2 linked regions of the Homo sapiens genome follow. The protein of the gene in region 1 purifies or fractionates together with the protein of each later gene. This does not show direct contact. Each region holds a gene or a part of one and is shown on either strand. Other genes may lie near its edges.

What was found.
Region 2: the proteins of FLYWCH1 (region 1) and HTATSF1 purify together in Homo sapiens (affinity purification with mass spectrometry; one large-scale study listed by BioGRID and IntAct). This does not show direct contact.

Annotation. Positions count from the first base shown.
Region 1 is NC_000016.10:2,939,161-2,942,982, forward strand, and holds part of FLYWCH1 (FLYWCH-type zinc finger-containing protein 1), read left to right. Parts: exon of another isoform or gene 1-820; intron 821-871; coding exon 872-932; coding exon of another isoform or gene 933-936; exon of another isoform or gene 937-1,001; intron 1,002-3,822. UniProt on the Homo sapiens protein: Transcription cofactor. Negatively regulates transcription activation by catenin beta-1 CTNNB1, perhaps acting by competing with TCF4 for CTNNB1 binding. May play a role in DNA-damage response signaling.
Region 2 is NC_000023.11:136,504,052-136,507,873, reverse strand, and holds part of HTATSF1 (17S U2 SnRNP complex component HTATSF1), read right to left. Parts: intron 3,511-3,822; coding exon 3,411-3,510; intron 1-3,410. UniProt on the Homo sapiens protein: Component of the 17S U2 SnRNP complex of the spliceosome, a large ribonucleoprotein complex that removes introns from transcribed pre-mRNAs.

The sequences.
Region 1 (3,822 bases):
GTTGGCCAGGCACAGTGGCTCACGCCTGTAATCCCAGCACTTTGGGAGGCTGAGGCAGGCGGATCACCTGAGGTCAGGAGTTCGAGACCATCCTGATCAACATGGAGAAACCCCGTCTCTACTAAAAATACAAAATTAGCTGGACATGGTGACGCATGCCTGTAATCCCAGCTACGCTGTAATCCCAGCTGCTTGGGAGGCAGGAGAATCACTTGAACCTGGGAGGCGGAGGTTGCAGTGAGCCAAGATCGCGCCACTGCCCTCCAGCCTGGGCAACAAGAGTGAAACTCCATCTCAAAAAAAGAGAAGAAAAGAAAACAGCCTGGCCAACATGGTGAAACCTTGAAAGAAAACAGCCTGGCCAACATGGTGAAACCCTGTCTCTAAAAAAAAAGTTTATAAATCAGCTGGGCACAGTGGTGCACGCTTGTGGTCTGAGCTCCTCAGAAAAGGGGAGGATCACTCTAGCCCGGGAGGTTGAGGCTGCAGTGAGCCATGCACTGCAGTCCAGCCTGGGTGACAGAACAAGACCCTGTCTTTACAAGAAATTTTTTTGAGAAAAGGATTTCTTTGAGAAAGCCACTATCGAGCTTACAGAGAAAGTTGTGCTGGAGGCCTGGCCTTTCATCTTTGATGTCTAGTTGACCCCCACTATTTTCCATGACAGCAGCTGAAGGTCAACTCTTAGGAGCTCAAGTAGCTGCTGTTACCTGGGAAGGTAATTGATGCGTTGAATTCCCAGCGTTGCTTCACCCGGTTGTCTTTCTCCTCACAGCCTTGAGGGCGTCGTTAACAAGGTGTGTGTCCTTGGTTCTGTCAGCTTCAACAAGAGAAGAATTATTAATTCATATTTTCAATTATTTTTCCACAGAAAAGATTCAAGTTCAGCTGTGCTTCAAGACGTGTTCTCCTGAAAGCCAGCAGATTTATGGGTAATTGTATTTGTTATCTAATGGTGCATGACCAATTACAACAAAACGTAGTGGGCTTAAAACAACAAATATTTGCTGTCTCAGCTTTTGTGGGTCAACATTATGGGAGTGGTTGGGCTGGGTGGTTCTGACTCCTGAGGTTGAAGAGAATTTGTCAGCCAGGGTGGCAGTCATCTGAAGGCCCAAGTGAGGCTGGAGGCCCTGCTCCTCACCATAGGGACCCCTCCTTGGGCCCACTTGAGCATCCTTCACATGACAGCCATGGGACAGAGAGAGAACAAGAGGGAAGCTGCCAGCAGCAGAATTCAGGTTCTTCTCAACCACAGCCAGGCCATAAAGCAAGAGTCCATTATTTTATTTTTTGAGATGGAGTCTGTGTGTGGCCCAGGCTGGAGTACAGCGGCATGATCTCAGCTCACTGCAAACTCTACCTTCCGGGTTCAAGCAATTCTCCTGTCTCAGCCCCCTGAGTAGCTGGGATTACAGGCATGTACCACCACACCGAGCTGATTTTTGTATTTGCAGTAGAGATAGGGTTTTATCATGGTGGCCAGGCTGAGTCTCAAACTTCTGACCTCAAATGATCCTCCTGTCTCGGGTCTCCCGAGTGCTGGGATTACAGGCAAGAGCCACTGTGCCCAGCCTTGTTATTGGTTTGTAATTACATCCCACTATGGTCAAAGAACATACTTTGTATCATTTCAGTCCTTTCACGGCTGGATACAGTGGCTCATACCTGTAATTCCAGCACTTTGGGAGGCCAAGGCAGGCAGATCATTTGTAATTCCAGCACTTTGGGAGGCCAAGGCAGGCAGATCATTTGAGGTCAGGAGTTCGAGACCAGCCTGGCCAACATGGTGAAACCCCATCTCTACTAAAAATACAAAAATTAGTCAGGCATGGTGGTACATGCATGTAATCCAAGCTATTCGGGAGGCAGAGGTTGCAGTGAGCCAAGATTGTGCCACTGCACTCCAGCCTAGGTGACAAACAAAAACCAAATCAAAAACAGAGAAATTTGGGAAACTCAGAAATACGTAGAAATTAAAGAACACACTTATAAGAAACCAGTGAGTCAGACTGGGCATGGTGGCTCACGCCTGTAATCTCAACACTCTGGGAGGCAGAGGCAGGAGGATCACTTGAGCCCAGGAGTTTGAAACCAGTTGGGGCAACAGAGCATGACCCTGTGTGTAATTTAAAACAAACAAAACAATGAGCCAAAGAAGATAATTATAAAATACTTTGAAATAAAACTTATGGGATGCACTGAAAGCCGTGCTTAGAGGGAAATCTATAGCTAAAAACACTTCTATTAAAAAGGAAGAAGCCTGGGCAACATGGTGAGACCTCGTCTCTGCCAAAAACTCAGCCAGTCATGGTAGCATGTGCTGGTAGTATCGCTTGAACCTGGGAGATTGAGGCTGCAGTGAAGCATGATTGTACCACTGCACTCCAGCCTGGGAGACAGAGCAAGATCCCATCTCTAAATGAATAAACAGGGCCAAGCATGGTGGCTCACACCTGTAATCCTAGCATTTTGGGTGGCTAGGGTGGGAGGATCGCTTGAGCCCAGGAGTTCCATACTAGCATGGGCAAGACCTCATCTCCACAAAAAATAGAAAAACTAAAAAAAAAAGAACTAAAAGTCTGGGCGTGGTGGCTCACACCTGTAATCCCAGCACACTGGGAGACCGAGGGAGGTAGATCACGAGACCACGGGTTCAAGACCAGCCTGACCAACATGGTGAAACCCCATCTCTACTAAAGATAGAAAAATTAGCCAGGCGTGGTGGTGGGAGCCTGTAGCAGGAGAATTGCTTGAACCCAGGAGGTGGAGGTTGCAGTGAGTCGAGATTGCGCCACTGCACTCCAGCCTGGGCGACAGAGCAAGACTCATCTCAAAAAAAAAAAAAAAAAAAAAAAAAAAACTGAAGCAGAAGGAAGGAAATAAATAATAAATGAAACCAAAAGTTGGTTCTGTATAAGGATCAATAAAATTGACAAATATTTAGCTCTATCTACAGATCAAAAAAATTGAAAAGCAAGAATACTGAAAATACTAAAATCAGGAATAAAGATGAGACCTTACTATGGACCTCATTCTGGCAGAGTCTCATTCTGACACCCAGGCTGGAGTGCAGTGGTGCCATCTCAGCTCACTTGAACCTCACCCTCCTGAGTAGCTGGGACTACATGCACGCACCACCACGCCTGGCTAATTTTTCTATTTTTAGTAGAAACGGGGTTTTCCCATGTTGTCCAGGCTGGTCTCCAACTCCTGGGCTCAATCAGTCCACCTGCCTTGGCCTCCCAAAGTGCTGGCATTACAAGCATGAGCCGCAATGCTTGGCCCCAGCTCATTCTCTAAGACCAGTATCACCCTGATATCAAAACCAAGCAAAGGAATCACAAAGAGAAAACTACAGACCAGTATTTCTTAGGAACGTAGAATACCAGCAAACAGAATCCAGCAACATAAAAAAGGATTATATACCATGACCAAGTAAGATTTATCCCAGGAATGCATCAACATGCAAAACCAATTAATGTAACACAGCAGGCCTGAGACTGCTGCCCTAAGAACAGCCTGTGTGCAAGGTTCACCCTTGGCTGGCATCTGGGAACTTTTTTTTTTTTTTTTTTTTTTTTGAGACGGAGTCTCACTCTGTCGCCCAGGCTGGAGTGCAGTGGTGTGATCTTGGCTCACTGCAAGATCACTGTGAGTGATCCCAGGTAGCTGGGATTAGAAGTGCGCACCACCACGCTCAGCTAATTTTTGTATTTTTAGTGGAGACGGGGTTTCGCTATGTTGGCTAGGCTGGTCACGAACTCCCGACCTCAAGTGATCCACCCGCCTCGGACTCCTAAAGTGCTGGGATTACAGGCA
Region 2 (3,822 bases), on another chromosome or scaffold:
TCCTATTAGAGTGAGTGCTTTCAGAAGGCAGGACCTTTGTTTTATTGAGTTTCAGATACCTCACAGAAAATAGCACAGACTTTTGTACAAAGCCAATATTCAAGAAAATCTTTTTAAGAATTTGATAAACTGTTTCTAATACCTCTCTTTTATTCACCAAGGAAAATCAGGATTATATCAAAAACAAAAAAAAAACTGTGTCAACATGTTTAACAACTTTTAAATTGAAGCGTGATTCCATGGTGGGGGTAGGCATCACCTCCATTTCTACACCAATGTCTCAGTGCTTTGCTTTCTTTCTTTTTTTTTTTTGAAGACAGAGTCTTACTCTGTTGCCCAGGCTGGAGTGCAGTGGCGCGATCTTGGCTCACTGCAGCCTCTGCCTCCCGGATTCAAGTGATCCTCGTGCCTCAGCCTTCCAAGTAGCTGGGATTACAGGTGCGTGCTATCATGCCCGGCTAATGCATTTGAGTTTTGACTCTTCATGTCCTGGTATTCAAATTTGCCAGGCAATGCATTTTAAAGTAAGGATTTGAATTAAATACTGAAGACCCTCTGAAGTTACATTAAAAATGTTAGCCTTCAGATCAGACAGTATTCTTAGGTATGTTGCTTCTAACTGTTTGGAATCAAAATATACCCCTCCACCCAAAATCTGACTCCTTTCAGATATCTCAGGATAACCTGACAATTCAGTTTTTGTTTTCCACTAAAAAGCTCAATGCTGCTGTGTGTTCTTTAGGTTCATATGGAGTCTTGAGTCAAATCAAACACTCCCCCAAAACATGCAATAAAAGCAGGTTTTCCTGTTGGACACTTCTATCAAAAGTTATATAATGTCTATACCAGTGTTGTCCAATAGAAGGTTCTGTGATAATGAAAATGTTGTATATCTGCATTATCCAATATGGTAGCTACTAGCTACATGTGCCTAGTAGAAGCGATGAACTGAATTTTATTTCATTTTAATTAACTTACATTTAACCACACATGGCTACAGTCTACCATATCTGACAGCACAGGTCTACACTGAGGTTCAGGTGCTCAGAGACAGTGAACAAAAGCAAGATTATTTGTCACTCTTCTTGTTGACACGCTCTCAGCAAGCTAGTTGGACCATGTGAGGCCAGGAAGGTGGGCAAACAAGGATAGCATCACCAAGCATTTCTTTGTGAACTAATTCCGCCACGGCCAAGACAATGTCCCACCATCCTTTGTGGAATAAGCATCTAAGAAGAAAATTTGCTTTCATTTGCAAAGATGCTGAAGAGAAAATGTTTTATCCACTGGCTGAATGAAAAGACTCTGGCTTGTAAATAACAAGGGTTTCATTTAGCAATTCTTTCAATTCTTCATCACATAAATATTAAGGGCCAACTGTGTGCCAGGCAAATTCTATGTACTGAGAATACAGCAGCAAACAAGGTAGACAAAATACTGGGTGTCATGGAGCTCACATTCTAGTAGACGAGTCAAAATTACTTCAGATAATAATAAATGCTATGAAGGAAACAAAATAGGGTAGTATAAAGGCTCTGTAACTCCAAAGTAATGTTTATACTAAACCAAGAAGATTAAAAAAAAAATCAGGAATTTGCAAGCATGAAACTTCTATCTTTAAAAATATTCACTGGAGGGAATGTATAGGGGTCAAGGTAGAATAAATGTGGTTTTGGGGAAAGAATATTTGTTAAGCTGGGAAGAGCTAAGTCTGCCTGGGGTGATCCTTAGACTCAAATAAGGTATTTCAATGAGCAAGGCAGGAGGTAGAAACAAGAATAGATTAAAATTACACAACAGACTTCTACTTGCAGAGGTTCCAGATAGTTTGAATTAGGTTTGCATTTACATTCACACTTGGGTGGCAGGAGTATGAAATGTGTGAATCAAAGACCTCGAGTCACAGAAATAAATATGTCACCTAATAAATCACTTATTTAGCAGGGGGATAAAATGTAATAAATAATAGGAAATCCCGGAGTTGTATTTAGCAGACTAAATATTGTGATCAATCTGTGCATTTATTTTATATGCTGCTTTAATGACTATGATCTGGTTCTTTGTTTTGTTTTATTTTGTTTTGTTTTGAGATGGAGTCTCGCTCCGTTGCCCAGGCTGGAGTGCAGTGGCGCGATCTTACCATAACCTCTGCCTACCGGGTTCAGGTGATTCTCCTGAATCAGCCTCCTGAGTAGCTGGGATTACAGGTATGCGCCACCATGCCCAGCTAATATTTTTGTAATTCTATGCATTCATTTTAAAGTTATTGCTGGCAAAAACAGTATTTCAAAATGCATCTGGTGTGCACGTGTTTATAAACCATACTTCATTATCACTGCAACTGTAAAACTGTAAACTGTTATATTTCAAAATTCTTCCAGATTTCTAGTCAGAAGAGATATCAATCAATCTCATAAATAAACCAGACGTATATTTCCAATGACCTCAAAAGATGCCCAAACTCCATAGGTACACAGTAAACCTTATCACAACACTATTCATTGAGATAGAGCTGAACTGTCCATTTTGGGGCCCTCTCTAAGGGAGCTACAATTATATTACCATTTTGACTGTTTAAATGCACAAAAGGGTCAGGAATGGGCACTAATTTACAACTAGATTATTGGTAAAAACGGAATTTTACGTTATGAACATTTTTCTCTGTATAACTTGCTATCTGTATAACCTGCTTTCTGTATAACTTGCTATCACTAATTTCAGAACCAGGGAGAGAATAAAGAGTTGTTTCTCCACAACAATAAAGTCAGTCTACACCAGTAGACAGAGATAAGAATACAGGCAGAATGTAACACAAGGTACTTTGATGACAATATTCCTCAGAACTCCTTGTTCTTTGCTTCTCCTTTATTCACTTTTTTGAGGGGAGGAAGGACAGTTCCATTAACTTTTTTTAAAATCACTTAAAAAAGTTGATACATAACAGATGTACTTATTCACTTTTACTTGCTGTTCTTGGAATTTTCCACGGACATTAAATATTATAACTTTTAGTACCAAACTGAAGTTTGCATTTACAATTGTGAAGCTGGTACTCCCCACCAAAATCAGGCCATACTTGTTGGCTTGCACTGAAAATCCACAAGCAGTTCCCATAAATCTTTTGATGATGATATTTTTCAATGGTTTCCCATACCAAGTAGCTGCTGCTTGGGGCGCAGTATGGTTATTAAACAGTCTTATCTGTGATACACTTTAAAACAATACTGGGCTAAACAAAGGGAAGGGAAATCAAAAGACTTAAGTAGCTTCTTGGCTCCATCTTCCTTTACTACTCGCTGCACAAACACGTAGGAGGTGACAAGACAAAGATGAGGCGAGGCAAGCTCCAGGCTCCCTTGAGAGAAAAAAAGCCTATCAGCATTTCTATCAGTAAGCACACCACTTCCTACCTCAAAATCCATAGGATGAAACATATTCTTGATGATGACAACTCGCTCATGGCGCATCCGGGATGGTCCGGCTCGCCTCTCAGGTCTCCAATCCAACTGCCTGAGGCAATGAAGCAGTAACAACAAACTGTAAATTTTGCTTCAGACTTGTTGGAGAGAGAAAAGAATGAGTTGTTCATACAATACTTTACTGAGTATTTAATAAAGATAATTACTGGATTTTACAACAACAAACTGTATTTCAGTCATAGTTCCAGTCAGAAAACTTTCTGAAATAAAAATAATGGGCAGGGGGCCGTGTGCGGTGGCTCATACCTATAATCCCAGCACTTTGGGAGGCCGAGGCGGGCGGATCACTTGAGGCCAGGAGTTCAAGACCAGCCTGGCCAACATGGTGAAACCCCATCTCTAC